Linked DNA regions of Homo sapiens: region 2 is linked to region 1. The links come from fine-mapping of genetic effects on gene expression. Tissue or cell type: stomach. Region 1 holds a variant in brackets; the other region holds the start of a gene. All regions are shown on one strand. Distances are between the middles of the regions.

Region 1 (7,657 bases):
TAAACCTTCAGCAGGATGGGGGAGACAGACAGATGGGGACTCTGGGAAGGGACCAGGTAGCAGAGCAGGGACCGTAGGCAGGATGTCTTGGGCCACCTCCTACCCTCCCTGGACACTGGTCCCAGCTCTGAAACCTTTGTCTTCTTTGGGCTTACTTTTATTTTGTTATTCAAAGTATTAAAATGCAGCTCTGATTGTAGAATAACTTTTACTCTCATCAAAAAAAAAAAAAAGCAGATGGTTTCTTTACGTCGTGGCTATGACAAGAGTACTTTGGGAGCATTTAAGTAAAACAGTGTTCTTAAGTTTATTGGGTGGCTCTGAAGTGAGTGAGGACTTCAGTGGGGTCATCCTGGAAAGGAAAGGCAAAGGCCAGTGAGCGGGTGGGGGCTCAGTGCCATGGGTGACCCAGGTCTGGGGCTTGGCAGTCTGCCTCCCCTGTGGGAACCTGCAGTTCAAGGCCAGCCTGGACTCTTTTCAAATCCATCCTGGCAGGAGGTGGGGAAGCAGCTTGGAAGTGCTGCTATGTGGCCATCAGGAGCAAGGACTTTCAAAAAGGCCACGCTGGGTCAAGCCCACCGCTTATCTGCTGTGTGTCCTTGGCAAGCTACTTACCAGTCTGATCCCTAGATTCCTTATCTGCAAAATGGGTATAATGCAGATGCCCACCTGACAAGGTGATTGGAGGCCTTAAACCGGAGAGCACAGGTGGCTGGACATAGAGTAAGCTGGGAAAAGCCAAAATCACCTTTGCAAAAAAAATTAACAGTGAGGAAATGATGGCAGTAAAAGAGATCTGATCTAAATCCTCACCCACCTCCCACCCCCAGTCATGCCTCTCCTGTAATCATTCCTGGGCTTTGGCTAAGCCAACTTTGGGAGACCTCTAGTTTAAGGTTTAAATGATAATAGGCCTTCCCTAAAACTCAGCTGCCTTGATAAAGCTAATGAAAGGCCATCAGGCTAGGAAGAGGGGAGAAACCTGAATTCTGCTAAGGTGTAGACTGCTCACAAAATATACAACTTCACTATCGTAGATGAGCCTTTTGAGATCTTTTCAGGTTTTTTGCATGTCTGACACCTGGCTCTACCCAGACCACCAGCCCCACTCCTATGGCCCACCTAGAAGCAACTCAGCTCAAGAGGACAGCTCTGACCCCCTGTGATTTCATCAGCAGCAAGCATCCATTACCTGGCCGCCACCACCCCTTCTCCCAAACTGCCTTTGAAAAGCCCCTCCCCTAGGAACCTTTGGGGAGATTGATTTGAGTAATGACACCGTCTCCCACGTGGCGGTGTTACTGGCCGCAAATCTGTATAGCTCTGCAGCAACCTCAGTTCTCACCTTGTCAGAAGAAGGAATTCGATTGAGGGGCATAACGCAGAAGAAGAGACCGAGGCAAGTTTCAGAGCAGGAGTGAAAGTTTATTAAAAAGTTTTAGAGCAGGAATGAAAAGAAAGTACACTTGGAAGAGGGCCAAGCAGACATCTTGGAGGTCAAGTGCCCCATTTGACCTTGGACTTAGGGTTTGATATGCTGGCCTACTTCCAGCGTCGTGCACCCCTTTTCCGGTGGAATGCCCCTGGAAGGTTACCAGTTAAACTCCGCCATTTTGCCTCTCAATTCACATGCTTGGGCCCACTCACCCAGCTCCTGAGATCTTATCAGGAAGCTGCTGATCACCAGCTTGTGTTTCTAGCTCTTGGGAAACTGCCTTTCCCTGGCACTGTCTGTGACCAATTATTATTTTAGAGAGACAGTGTACACCTGCCTGACCATCATCTGACGGTCACCTGACTTTCCTGGTAGGGTGTCAGGACAGCCCTCTCCTGCCCCGCTCATGCCTGACTAGCTACCTGCTGTAACAGCATGGCTGGCCTTATGTCAATTAAACTCTTTCTTTACTGCAATGCCTTGATCTTTTTTTGTGCAGCAGGCGGGTGGGGGCTCAGTGCCAAGGGTAGTCTAGATTCGCGGCCTAGAAAGCCTGGCCTGTTGGGTGGTTCCAAAGCTGCGTGGTTCCCCTCAGGACTGGCGCTACCGTCTTGTGGGAATGATGGAAGTTGAATGCAGCATATAGGAAGCTTTCCTGATTGTAACTCAGCATCCTGCAGTTCTGTTCACTAAACCTTGTTAAGCAGGCCCTGGATTAAGGTCCAGAGGTTTTACAGGTTGATAAAGCTGAGCCCCTGTCCTCAAGGGCTTATATTCTCTGAGGAGGAATGACAAAGGGTCATGCTAGTTTCAGTACCTTACCAAAAGTTTTGAGGCAGCAGGATCCTGGGTCTTTGTGGGAGCACAGAGGAGGAGAGTGGGCGGCAGCTAGGAAGGCTTCCTGGAAGAGGTGGTTCCTCTTACTTTTCCATGGTTTTCTCCAGTAATCCGCTTTGTTTTTCCCAAGAAAAATAAGGGAAATTCAGGCCAACTATCTATCAAAAAATTATTCCACATGTGTCAAAAGCTTATCAACATTTTAATCACTTATTTGGAAAGTTACTTACCTTACAAAGTTCCCCCTTTTCAAAATGATAACAGGCTTTATATCCATAGCATAGTCACACACATACATCAAACTTTCTGCAAGCTTTAGTTTAGAGTCGAAGTCTGCCCTGTTATTTCTGATCATTGGTGATATTCGACATAGCATTTTTTAGGTGGACAGCTTGGGAAAAGAGCCAAGTCAGGCGCCCAGTTTCTACATAAATGGCACCCCACAGCCTCTCTTCACCCTACGGTTCCTTTTCCCTGGCTCCAAGGCTGCTCCGACAGACGGGCTTCGGGCCACAGCTGGCAGCAGGAGAGCAAAGACAGGAGCAGTGAGGACTGGCTGACAGACTGCTGTTACCATGGCCAGAGGCCTGCGTGATTGACATGCCAGTGATTGACCTCTTTGGCCAGCTGATGCCGCAGGTCACGAGCCAAAAGACATGAGACTCAAGAAAATATTTGTATTTTTTCGGTGTTATTCCCATAATGTTTCATTCAAATGTACTTCTACACTGTTTTATTTTGAATGATTGCATTCCTGTTTGACTCTTTGCACAATTCAGGCCTCGGCTTCTCTTTCTTTTCTTTATTTTAACTCACAGATGTGGGAGGAGGCCATTGCCTTGGGCAAGGAGCTAGCCGAGCAGTATGAGAACGAAATGTTTGATTATGAGCAACTCAGCGAATTGCTGGTGAGTCTTTATTTCTTTTTATTTAAATGAACACAGGCAATCTCAGCTGGTTTTTCAGGAATCTCTCTTTCCATGTCAATGTTAGGGTTCACCCCAGGCACTCTGGGACCTTGGCCATGTCCCTCCGTTTTGCCTAGGAAGATGGTTTTAGTTAATTTGCTGGTTGATATTTGGCCCATAAATATTTACTTTTTAGTCCCAAGTCAGCTCTTATAACCAAACTCTTAAGGCTTCTATGAA[T/C]AAATTGTACGTAAACAACTGCTGACCTTGTGTATAGCGGTCTTGACAGCCCAGGAGTCTGTGAACATTTGTACTAGTTTAAAACTGACCCCAGGCCAGGCGCACTGGCTCACGCCTGTAATCCCAGCACTTTGGGAGGCTAAGGCAGGCGGATCACGAGGTCAGGAGATCAAGACCATCCTGGCTAACACGGTGAAACCCCATCTCTACTAAAAATACAACAAAGTAGCCGGGCGTGGTAGCACACGCCTGTAGTCCTGGCTACTTGGGAGGCTGAGGCTGGAGAATCGCTTGAACCCAGGAGGTGGAAGTTGCAGTGAGCTGAGATCGCGCCAATGCACTCCAGCCTGGGCAACAGAGTGAGAGTCCGTCTCAAAAAACAAAAAAACCTGACCCCTTCTATGAGAGAGGGATGGATAGATAATGACCAGACCTTTCTTCTGCCATGGGAATGCTGTTAGTTTCTAATTGCTACCTCCTCCACCTTGTCATTTTTGTATTCAGCAGATCACCTTAATGATGTGGGAATGTCTGTCATGAATTTAGAACAGAACGATTCTGTTCCTTTAAATTCTCTTTGAACGTATCCCACTATCTGACCTATACCTTTTAAAAAATACTAAGGGCCAGCCATTTCTATGGCACTTCTTTGGTTATTGAAAACACCCATAAGTCACAACTTTTTGCTGAATTTGGGCTAGTTGGTTCAGATTCCCTTGCGGAATGATGGAGAATGAGTGAAAAATAATGTCAAAACGATGGAGTGAGATGAAATTCAGGTGCAAGCCTCAGTACCCTCTCCCACCATCTCCCTCTCCCACCATCTCCCCCTCCCACCCTATAGAAGTTGCCAGAGCTTTTAAAGAGCCCGCAAGAAGAATCCAGAGGCACACATGCTTGAATACTCAAACCTGAAATGCATTTTCTTTTTTCCTTCCAGAAAAAACAGGCTCAGTTTTATGAAAACATCGTCAAAGTGATCAGGCCCAAGCCTGACTATTTTGCTGTTGGCTACTACGGACAAGGGTTCCCCACATTCCTGCGGGTAAAGTTTGGTTCTGCCTAATCTGAGCCATGATTGTTCCCCCAGCAGAAAATCCCCTTCCCGTTCTGAGGAAGGGTGGGGAGTTTGCATCCGCGTGGGATCGTGCAACTCTCTACACTGCCATAGCTCGGTGGTTAGCCCGGGGGGCAGAGAGGGGTTGACAGGATTTTATTTGGTTGCATATAACCTTTCTATCTGATTTTTCCGTAAAAGGACCCTCCTTCAGAGATTTACACGTATTATTTTAATTGAGGTGTGATATATGATATGTGATACTATTTGCCATCTTAGCCATTTTTAGGTGTGTAGTTCGGTGGCATTAATACAGTCACGTTGTTGTGCGGCCAGCACCACCATCTACCTTCAGAACTTTTTCATCTTGCAAAACTGAGATTCTGCATCCATTAAACACGAACTCCCCATTCTCCCTCCTGCCAGCCCCAGCAGCCACCGTTCTACTTTGTGTCTCTATGAATCTGACTGTTGTAGGGACCTTGTATTAGTGGAATTGTACAGTGTTCGCCCTTCTGTGTTTGGCTTGTTTCACTCGGCCGAATGTCTTCCAGTTTCATCCAGGTTGTAGCATGTGTCAGAACTTTATCCTTTTTGAGGCTGAATGGTATTTCATTGCATGGAGAGGCCACATTTTATTTATTCATTGATCCACTGATGAACATTTGGGTTGTCCCCGCCCAATGTGCTGCTATGAAGATGTATGTTTTTAATTATATGGGAAATTGGAAATGGATCTGTATGGCCACGGTGCTAGAAACTCCAAACCAGGCTCCATCCCTGAGACAGGCATGTGCTTTCAGACATGTAATTGAAGCAGTAACCGTGATCACCTGCCAGGTGCCCATTTCCCAGTATTCACATGAGGCCAAAGGAGAAGTTACATAAATATTAATAGTGCTGCCTGGCCTACCATAGAATTGTTTATACATTTTCTCAAGAACACATTCTTTGGATGCCATTGACCAGTGGGTCATGATTTCCTGATATTTCTTATGACTTTTTTTTTTTTTTTTTGGACACTTGGTTTTCTCTTATCCTAGGAGACTATGTGTGATTGCTCTGGCTTTAGGAAGCAGAAGCTCTGTGTCTTGAGCACAGCCGTCTGGGGCAGTTGAAACCAGTTGGGAGATTCCCCTGGTTCCAGACGTTGTTCATTTGGGGTCCTGTGTTTCCGACTCCACGGGAGTCACTAATAGTGTGACATCTCTTCATCACGGCACCCAGAGGATACAGACCTCCCCTTAGGAAGGGCATGTCACTGTTGACAGGGGAGCACCACAGTTCTGGCCTGCTCTAGGAGGTGAGGCTGGCTGCCCACTCAGTGTCCTGCCTGGTGACGGAGGCGTCTGGCCCTGTCCTGGTCACTCCTGGTCACTGCTGGTCAGCTTCTCCTCTTGCCTTCATCGTGCAGCAAAGACAGCGGTTGATCAGAAGCACAGATTCTGAACAAAGTCTTCCCTTCCAAAGAATGAATAAAGGAGGCTTAGTTACAAGCTCTAAATTAGAGACAAATTTGAAATTAGCTTCATTCTCAATAAAAAACAAAGCTGAAGGGTGGAATGAGCTTGGAGTTAAAGCCACTTACTGTTGCTAAAGGCTTTAATTCGAGTGTGTGTGTGCTCCGGAACATACATCTTTAGGAAAGGGAGGCAGGTGGACCCTAAGCCATGCAGCCTTGTGCAGTGCTTGGTGTTAGATGGTGCGTGTGGCCCCTGTGGATGGAGATCTACCTCTGGTATGTAGGCACCAACTCTGGATCCGTGCAGGATGGTTATCCCAGAATCCAGAGCAAGGGAGCAGCCTGCGTGGAATATTATGTGAGGGCAGTGCCGGGTGCGGAGGACACGTTGCAGCTCCCGAGCCAATAGATGCCAGGTTGTGCCAGGAGCTCACACACAGCAGGCTCCAGGGGCGGTGCTGGGTCATCTCCACCACCAAAAGGACAAAATGAAAAGTCTGAATGGAGGTTAACAGGCTCGATTAATATTGAACTGACTTTCCCGCCACACCTGGATCATTCTGTGGGTCTGCAGCAATATATTTATCACACTTCACAGATGAGCTGGCAGGGGTCAATCTGCCAATGACACTGGCAGTTACCAAAACGTGGGCAGAATGTTTGCGTGCTTCATGCCCTGCTGGAGAGGAGCCTCCAAGAACTGACTAGCTGTCCCTTTTGCTTTGTTTTTCTCTAAAAATTGGTCTCACTGTTTTTTGTGCTCATGTTGATATTTATAGACCTTACAAGGAATAAATATCTTTGACTATATGTACATTTCCCCCTTGTTTTCATGTTCAAAAGGATCACTTCAGAATGCAAAGTAACTGACATTTTCAGAAAATGTTATTCGTGTTTTTACCTATAACTCACTAGCTTTTTTCTATTAAAGTCTTTATATACATTTTTATTATTATGTTTTCTCATGTAAAGCATAAGAAAAATGCTTGCTAGTTTGATAGTAGTCTGTTATCCATTAAATCTTACTGAATTTTGGAAGTGCGTGGCTTTATATAGAAGCCTTAGAAGTTGCTCAGACTGTATTTAAGATGACATATTATCTGGTTTCTGCTTGACTTTTTTTTTTCGGGGGGGCGGTGGGGAGAAATAGAGCATTTTTCTTCCATAATGGTACTTCTAAGACATATCTAAGCACAAAGTGAAAAAGAATTCAATTCTTAAACTGGTTCTTTTTTTAGCGATTTAGGAGAACTCAGAATAAGCTGGGGCAAGGGAAGGGGACTGTCTTAGTCCACTGGGGCTGCTGTAACAAAATACCTTAGACTGGGTACTTTATAAACAACAGGAATGTATTGTTCACAGTTCCGGAGGCTGGGAAGTCCAAGATCAAGGTGCCAGCAGATTTGGAGTCTGGGGAGGGCCATTCCTCATAGATGGCGCCTTCCACCTGTTCTCATGGGGTGGAAAGGGCAGGCAGCTCTCTGGGGCCTCTTTTCTGAGGCACTGATGACTTTCCTAAGGGTGGAGCCTTTCCAGAGGCCCCACCTTCTAATACTATCACCTTGGTGATTAGGTTTCAACATCTGAATTTTGGGGACTACAAACGTTCTGACCACAGCAGGGATCAATTGATTCAGTGTCATAGAATCTCTCTTAATCCTTTTGAAAATCCTTTAGTTAGACAAATTTTAATTTGACTTCAATCTTAGTCTTTAGGG
Region 2 (7,657 bases), 210 kb before region 1:
ATTGGAATAAAGACTTCTCTCAATGTTTGTATGAGAATTTCATGGTAATGAAAGTGTCGTCATGTAGTATCAATCATATTAAATTTTGCTTTAAAATATTGAAGTCACCCCATAATGTTATGAAATATTAAAATCAAATATGTGAGACAAAAAAGGATCTGCTTCATAAATCATGCCAGCTAATTTCTGGTTGGGGAATGTAGGTCTCCAACCAGTGGAATCATGGTGGGGAGGGGTTGTGGTGCTTCACATTTATGAAAGACTGTTGAAAATGACGATGACACTGGTTTTATCTGGGGAGTTTTTATGACCTCACACTCCCAGAATGACGGTGGTTTGCCTCAAGTATGTAGAATTTGCCTGCCTTCCCAACTGAGCTTCTTGGATGCTATGGACGCGTTGAACAGCATCCTTCACAAGCGTTAAAATCCGTGGTGAACCTGTCACTGCCCTCCTACGTAAATATCTGACCACAGAGCTGCTGCTTTGGGAGGTAGCTGTGATCATTTCTGTATCATGAGTCTCTGAGAAGCATAAGTCACCTGCTTCTCATATTCCAGAGTTCAGTAGTTGTCTCTAAATGAGATAGCCATGGCTGGGCGCAAACAAGAGAATACAAATGTCTACGTGAACGGGTCTGTCCTGCCACTCCACTGCGATCCGTTGTTATTTCTGAGAATCATTTTGATTTTTGGACTGCTTATTTCAGTGTGTAGGAGTCTTCCTTGTAGATGAATGCCTTTCACGTACAAGTCTTTCTCTTATTTATTGATTTATTTAAAAATTTTTCCCTACAGAGGGAGAAACAAAACACAAAAATTCCCTTTCCTGCCACAGGGGAAAACAACTGTGGCAAAACAGAGAAGCCCCCGAAGTAAACAGAGTAATAGAGTACCCAGCCTCCCATAGAGCTTGCAGAAATCTCATTGTGCAGACATGGAGCTTCCCAGCTTTTGCCTTGTTAGCCTATTTCTTAACCAGTAATTCTGTTTCTTAATAGGATAAAGGGCCTGACTTACATGAAAGCTCAAAGTCTTAATCACAATGATAAAATACAAAGTCGTGGCAACTGTAATAAGTTTAAAGACATATGTAGCTTTTCAAGGACATCTTGTCTTTAAGGAAAAGTCTTTCATTTAGCTAAAGAAATTAAACTGAATTGTTTAGTCTTTTAAACAAAATGATGAATTTAGTGAAGAAAACAAAACTCTCCATGGCTAATGTAATTTATGCAAAATCATGCAATTAGTGATAGCTGTGCTAGACTTTTTCTTTTCCTTAACCAAATGCGCCTCTAATAAAACCATCGTGAGGAGCAGTGCCATCTAATGTAAGTAGTAAACATGGATAGTAAATGATTAATATCTGGTGAGGCATGCAGATGGCAGGACTTCCATTTTTTCTTTGAGCTCCTTGTGCATGTTTGCTAATCATTCTTGCAAAAAAATTGCAAAGATAAATATGAACTTTCAAAAGTAACATTCAACAGGATATGAATGTAAGAAATAGTACAGTGTGGGGGAATAGTAAAAACCAGCACTTTCCGCCTCTGCATAGTGAAATGACGGTAACTTGCTGTAGCGTAAGCTTAATAAGGGTTATATCATTTTCATGTATGTACTACTCTGGGAATGGCCCGGGTCTTGTGAGTGGTATTTTTTCATCAAGTACCCAGCCAGCGCAGTCACTCTGACAGTCCCCCCACTGAGATAAGGCATGGAAAGGTAACCCTCTAGCAAGTCCTCGTTGAGGGGGGAGCGTTCAAGTGCACAGACGTCTACCCTGTGCTATCCTGAGCTGTAGTCTTCTGAAATGATCGTTTGGCTTCCCAGCCAAGGCAGGGCTCCCCCAAAGTTCATTCCCACTCTTGCAGTTTCACCTCGGGATGCTTCCGCAGAATTTCAGCGCCTAAGCAGACAAGGTCAAAGTAAACCGCTTCACCGCTGCTTCTGGCGCAGGGGCCCAGAGCGCGTGCAGCTCCCCAGCACAGACCAACAGCAGGAGAGGGGTCCGGGCGGGAGCCCTGGGCTGTAGATAAGCAAAACGCACCCATTTTCTCTCCTATTTACTCCAGAGGCACCTCTCCTCCCCCACTCCTGGCATCTCTTTATCACTGGCTCCCTCTCCCTGTGGCATATTTTTGGGTAGTAGAATGCTGAGGTCACAGGGAGCGGCTCTTTATCCAAGCAGTGGGGACATCAGCCTGGAGCCCTGAGCATGAACCAGCAAGATGCAGACTCTCGCTCTTGACTTTGGGCTCCAGGAGCTGCCCCGACCCCGGGCTGCCCGCGGGCTCCCTCCTCCCTCCTGCCCTCGCCCGCCAGCTCGCAGTCTCTTAGGTCTGCAGCGTTGGTTGGTTTCCCACGCCTGTCCCGGTCTGACTCGGGCTGCCAGGCACCGGGAAGCCCCGCGGCGCCGACCCCAACCCGCAGCCCCGGGAAGGTGCCAACCCCAGCGAGTGGAGGAGACGAGCATTTCACGTGGGCATCTGCCTTCACTGCTGCTCGCGCCTCTCCTCAACGGCCGGCGTCAGGGCCCCTCTGTTCCAACTCATCCCCCCCCCGAAGTTAATCAGCCGTACTTGTACTTTCCAGGGCGCTTTAGTTTGGAAAATACTTAAAAGCCTCGAAACCTTCCGGGGAGACGGCCGCCCCCAGATCTCCCAGTTTTGCCTGGCTAGGGCTGTCGGGCGCTCACGAAGCTGTGGCGTCTGTCTGGAACCCACATCGCAGAGGCGCAGCCCCGCTCCTCCCTGACGTCGCCAAAGTTGCCAGACGCCCCTCAGCGACCCGGTCGCGCCAGATGCAGTTGCATAACCTTGCCCCCCACCTGCGACCGCACCGGGTCCGCTCCCGGCTGCACCGGGGTGTCCCGGCCCCGGGAGCCGCCGAGTTTCCGGCCAAGCCGGTTTGGGGCCGAGTGTGTGCGCCCGAATCGGGGTCGGCGCCCGTCCCAGCGGTGCTCTGCCCGCGGCCAAGTACGACGGGCGCGGGGGCGCGGGAGGAGGGCACGCGGGGCTCCGCTTACCTTCCGCTGCTTACAGATAAGTCGAGGTCGATGCAGCGCCTGGCTCGGGCATGTCTCGCTGCGGACCCTGGCAAGCCTGGGGCGGCACGGAGCACTCCGGACAGGGCATCCGCGGCCAGACTCGCCGCGCTCACGCGGAGGAAGCCTCGGCTCCGGGGACTTGGCCCGCTGCGCGCCTGCTGCCCGCCCCCTCCACCGCTGCCGGCCCGGCCCTGCTGGCCCGGCCGGCCCCCGCGCCGCAGCTCGCGTCGCTCGCGTCCCTCCGGCCCCGCTTAGCGACGCGCGCGGGGAGGCAGCGGCTGGGCCAGCTCCGGGGACGCCCGCGCGCTCGCTTGCTCGCGACGCGGCGGAGCCAGCCACAGCCACCCGGCTTCGCGCTCCTCCGATGTCCTCATTTACTGCAATTGTCTTCGGCGAGATCTCAGAGCCAGGGCCAGGAGGCGGGGGCGGGGCAGAGGAGGGAGCAGGAGGGAAGTCCTTTCCGCTGCTCCAGGTCCCAGCTACTCCGCGGAGCCGGGCGGCCAGAGGCGAGGGCGCCCCAAGCCGCGCGCCTGCCGCCTGTGCGCCCGGCTGGCACCGAGGCGGGCGGAGCCCCGGGCCCCGCGGGGCGGAGGTGGGGCGGGGGCGGCGCGGGGCCGGGCCGGGCCGGGCCGCGTGCGTGGGGTGGGGGATAGGGAGGGAGTGGAGGAGCCCCCTCCCGCCGCCGCCAGAGCTGGAGGAGGAGGAGGAAGAGGAGGAGGAGGTGGAAGGAGCTGCCGCCGGCTGCCGCCGGCTGCCGCCTGCGCGCGGGGCTCCGCCACAGCGCGTCCTCCGGGTTTCTGGGCTGCAGGCGGCGCTGCATGGCCCGGGAACTTGTTGAGTCTACCCTGGAGCCGCCTCCGGAGCAGCTGGCGGGCGGGGGACTCCGTGTGTTCTCTCAGGGATGGGGGGTCGCTGGGGACCCTGCTGCATGACTGTCTGCTGTGCCAGCCAGCCTGGCCCGGCGGGGCTTTGGGAAGCCAGGCTTGAAGGGTGCGTGTCTTGTAGGTGCCTGGCCGCTCACCTGCGGATGCTGCCTTGTAGAAGCAGGAGTTCGGGGATCCTTTCAGTGCTGGCTCCAACCTGGTGTCAGCCTCTCTACATGGGGACAGGAGGTCCTATGAGTGGCCTGAGGACTGAAGTGGGAGGGCCTGCCTGGTAATGTTGCATGCTGACATTTAGGGACACTCCAGAGCAGGCGCCACTGCCACTCCTAGCCAGGAACCCTACCCCCCATCCAGAGCACACACCACCCGTCAGCAGAAGCCACAGGGCGCAGAGGCTGAGTTCCTTTGTGGCAGAGTAGAATTCTCTTGGGAGAGGAAAAGACCTAGGATGCACACGGAGCTATCCCCGCCCTTAATTTCCCACCCACCAAAGAGTATTGGGTGTTTTGAGCTCAGAGCAGCAGACCCAGGGGCCCCTCTGATGCCTGTCAGGCCCTGGGGTCTGGGCCAGGGACTAAGCAGCCAGCCGAGTGCAGGGCTCCTGGCCCCCTGGATTTGCTCCTAGAATGTAATGTAAAATGTAAGTAGCCACATTTATTAGTCTGTTTCTCAGGAAAGGTCAGAGAAGTAGTGGACCCCAGGGAAGGGACAGGCTTCGGAGAGGAAATTGGGAGGACAAATGGAAAGTCCCTTCACCCACCCACCTCTCCAGACACATCAGTGGGCAGTGAGACCTCTTTGCCTATACATCCCTGAGTCTCTGCACCTAGCACCAGCTCTGTGCCTGTGACCAAGCCATAGCTCCATCCTTGTTCGCTGAGCTGAACTGAGCCTATCACTGCCTTATAGAGTGTCTGTTTTTTATAAATGACTTTATACGAAATACCTTCTTTGTATGTGGATGCTTTGGGCAGTGTGTCCAGACATTTCAGAAGAAAAAAAAATCTAAAATGTCATCTATTTCCCTCTTTACCCCGCAGCATCCTTTGGTATACAATTTTGCCAGCCTTGGGGATCCAGATATGCCCAGGACGGGAGTCCTGAGCCTGTGGATCCAAACTCTGCCCACCTCACTCTTCTTGTTGTTCTTCTTAACTCAGATCCCCCAAGCTGATTTTCCAGCTTACCAGGGAGGCTGTTGGGAGCTGGCTGGAAAGAGATGCTTAATTTTGTGTGAGCAGTATGGAAACTGCAGTCCCCTCTTCTGCCTGGAAGGGGCCTGGGAAGGGAATGTATAGGAGTTGGGGACGTTTAAAACCAGATAGGAGAAGTTGCCACTCTCCAGCATGTTCCCTTGGGGATGTGCTGTTGCAGCTGTGGGCTCCAGTAATTTTCCCAGTGGTCTGGGGAACTTCTGTAAATCTTACTTTATTGGCAATCCATAAAATTGAAATCTGCCTTCCGTCTTTTAAAGTGACTGTAAATAAAGCTGCCAGGAAACTTGGGCATTGGGCTGGTAGTATCAGAAGGCTGAAGTTTTCCGGGACCAAGAGTGAAAACAGGTCAACATAAATGCATGCCCAGCAAGGCAGTGCTCAGCCACAGGTGGCACTGTGAACTGGCAAGAAAACAGCTCCAAGGACAGTGCTATCTGAGATTCGCATGATGTATAACTCCAGGAAGAAAATGGAAAGCCGTAATTGGCAGGTTAGAAAATCCACTTACATGAAGAGGAGAGTATAACGGAATTCTGTAGCATCATCAGGACTGCTTAGAGTTGTTCAATTGTGTAGTAGACTTACAGTTGTTTTGCTAAGTCTATTAAAATCATTGGCATCGCTTCTTTTTTTTTTTTTTGAAGTAGGAAACCATTTACATATTGTAGTGCTTAAGTGCATGTCTTCAGCATCACAAATCAAAATATTGGTGAAAACTTGCCTCACCTTACCTTTGGCTCTGGAGAGATATTCCACATGGGTGAGGTGTGTGTCATCATGCTCCAGGCTTTAAAGCAAGCATCATGCTGGGGGCTGGCTGGAGAGAAGGGAGTTTCAGCCATCTTCCTGCCCACAGATCCCTCTTGCATTTTTTTTTAATAGATGGGATGTAGGCATATTTTTAGGGTCTAGAATGAGTCAATATGCTCGGCTTCCTCAGGAAAAAAAAAAAGTGAAACTTGATAGATTCATTTTAGGAATCAATTGGTATTGGCTTTTTATATTTTGCTTAAGATTTTTGTTGAAAAAGATAGACTTGCAAAGGAGAAAATAGCTACTTTTCAAGTGGGATTTCCTAAAAGCAGAGGAATAAAAATAAGGGAAAGTTCAAGACGGCTAACTAAGCAAAATATCCACGTCTCTCTTCTTTTGCCTTCTTCTTGGAATTGTGCAGGGGTTGTACAGAGAATTGCTGGAATTCCACCCCTATGGTATAGTGAGTTTGAGGTCTCAATTTCCACATTAAAAAGTCAAGAATATACAAGTCAAACATGTTCAAGAATGTTCATAACAGGTTTATCTATATCTGTTCCAAACGGGAAATAATCCAAATACCAGTCAACAGTAGATAAAGATTTCTTGGTTCTTCGTATAGTGGAATACTAGACAGCAACCCAAAAGCACTAACTGCTGATGCATGCTTTGGCATGGAGGGCTTCTACAAAGGTGCAGAACAAAGGAAGCCAGACGCCCAGTGTTTATGACATGATTCCCTTTAGATGAAGTCCAAGAATGCGACAAAGTTATCAATGGTGGAAAATATCAGAATGGGGATTACCTTTGAGGCATACTCGTTGCCCGGGACCACAGCAACTTCACTGGTGCTGGATCATTCTGTCTCCTGCACTAGTTGCTTATGCAGTTTTCCACCTATATAGAAATTCATGGAGATGCTTCCTGTCTCAGTGTGACCTCATTTGTCTGAGCATCATCACTGTGTCATTGCAATGTCCACATGCATGCTCCCCAATAACCCTTACCCCTCAGTGAACCAGTGTATCTGTCAGTGTGATTAACCTGTATCCTCTCCAGTGTGCAAGGCAGGAGAAGAGAAAAGTGTCTCCAAACTAGCAACTGCAGAAGAGGAGCCTTCCAGTTTAGCTACACAGCAGAACTTCCTTCTTTAGGAGACTGCCGATGAAACGCCTGCCCTCCCAACTGTCCGATGTCGCTGTGACAGAGCTCGCTATGGACGTGAATTTTTCTTTCCCATGTCTTTGTTACACAAAAGCGGTCCCGATCCAGATCCCAAGAGAGGGTTCCCGGATCTCACACAAGAAAGAACACAGGGCGAGTCCACTGTGCAAAGTGAAAACAAGTTTATTAAGAGAATAAAGTAGTGAAAGAACAGCTACTCCATAGACAGAGTGGGACATTCCCAAAAGTAAGAGGAGGAATGCGTCCAGCCTAGGTACAATACTCATATATATGGGGAGCTCTGCTCTGCTACGAGGGTTTGTGATAAAGGATTAAATTTCTTAATTATTATATTTTGCAAGAATCGATATTATCTGTTTTCGTTTTTGTTTTTGTTTTTGTTTTGGAGACAGAGTTTCGTTTTGTTGCCCAGGCTAGAGTGGCGTGATGTCAGTTTACTGCAACCTCCATCTCCCATGTTCAAGCAATTCTCGTGCCTCAGCCTCCTGAGTAACCTGTAACCACGCCTGGCTGATTTTTTGTATTTTAGTAGAAATGAGGTTTCACCATGTTGCCCAGGCTGGTCTCCAA

Alleles and levels. Alleles are on the strand shown, and positions count from the first base shown. SD is a standard deviation of normalised expression in the study named.
As copies of T replace C in region 1, the expression in stomach of the gene that starts at base 3,622 in region 2 goes down (moderate effect, 0.52 SD a copy in GTEx).

What was found. PIP is the estimated chance that this variant, and not a neighbour inherited with it, causes the effect.
Region 2: it holds the start of INSYN2A, and the variant in region 1 is fine-mapped to the expression of INSYN2A in stomach (GTEx, PIP above 0.99). The same link has a PIP of 0.9 or more in ileum.

What each region holds. Positions count from the first base shown.
Region 1 is chr10:127,399,965-127,407,621 of GRCh38, forward strand. DOCK1 (dedicator of cytokinesis 1) reads left to right here. Exons shown (of 52, transcript NM_001290223.2): 39 at 3,091-3,180; 40 at 4,361-4,465. LOC105378551 (a long non-coding RNA gene) reads right to left here and starts at 227. Exons shown (of 3, transcript XR_001747642.3): 1 at 1-227. The variant T/C (reference allele first, on the strand shown) is at 3,421.
Region 2 is chr10:127,192,970-127,200,626 of GRCh38, forward strand. INSYN2A (inhibitory synaptic factor 2A) reads right to left here and starts at 3,622. Exons shown (of 6, transcript NM_001039762.3): 1 at 3,028-3,622. All of the region lies in intron 27 of DOCK1 (dedicator of cytokinesis 1), which reads left to right.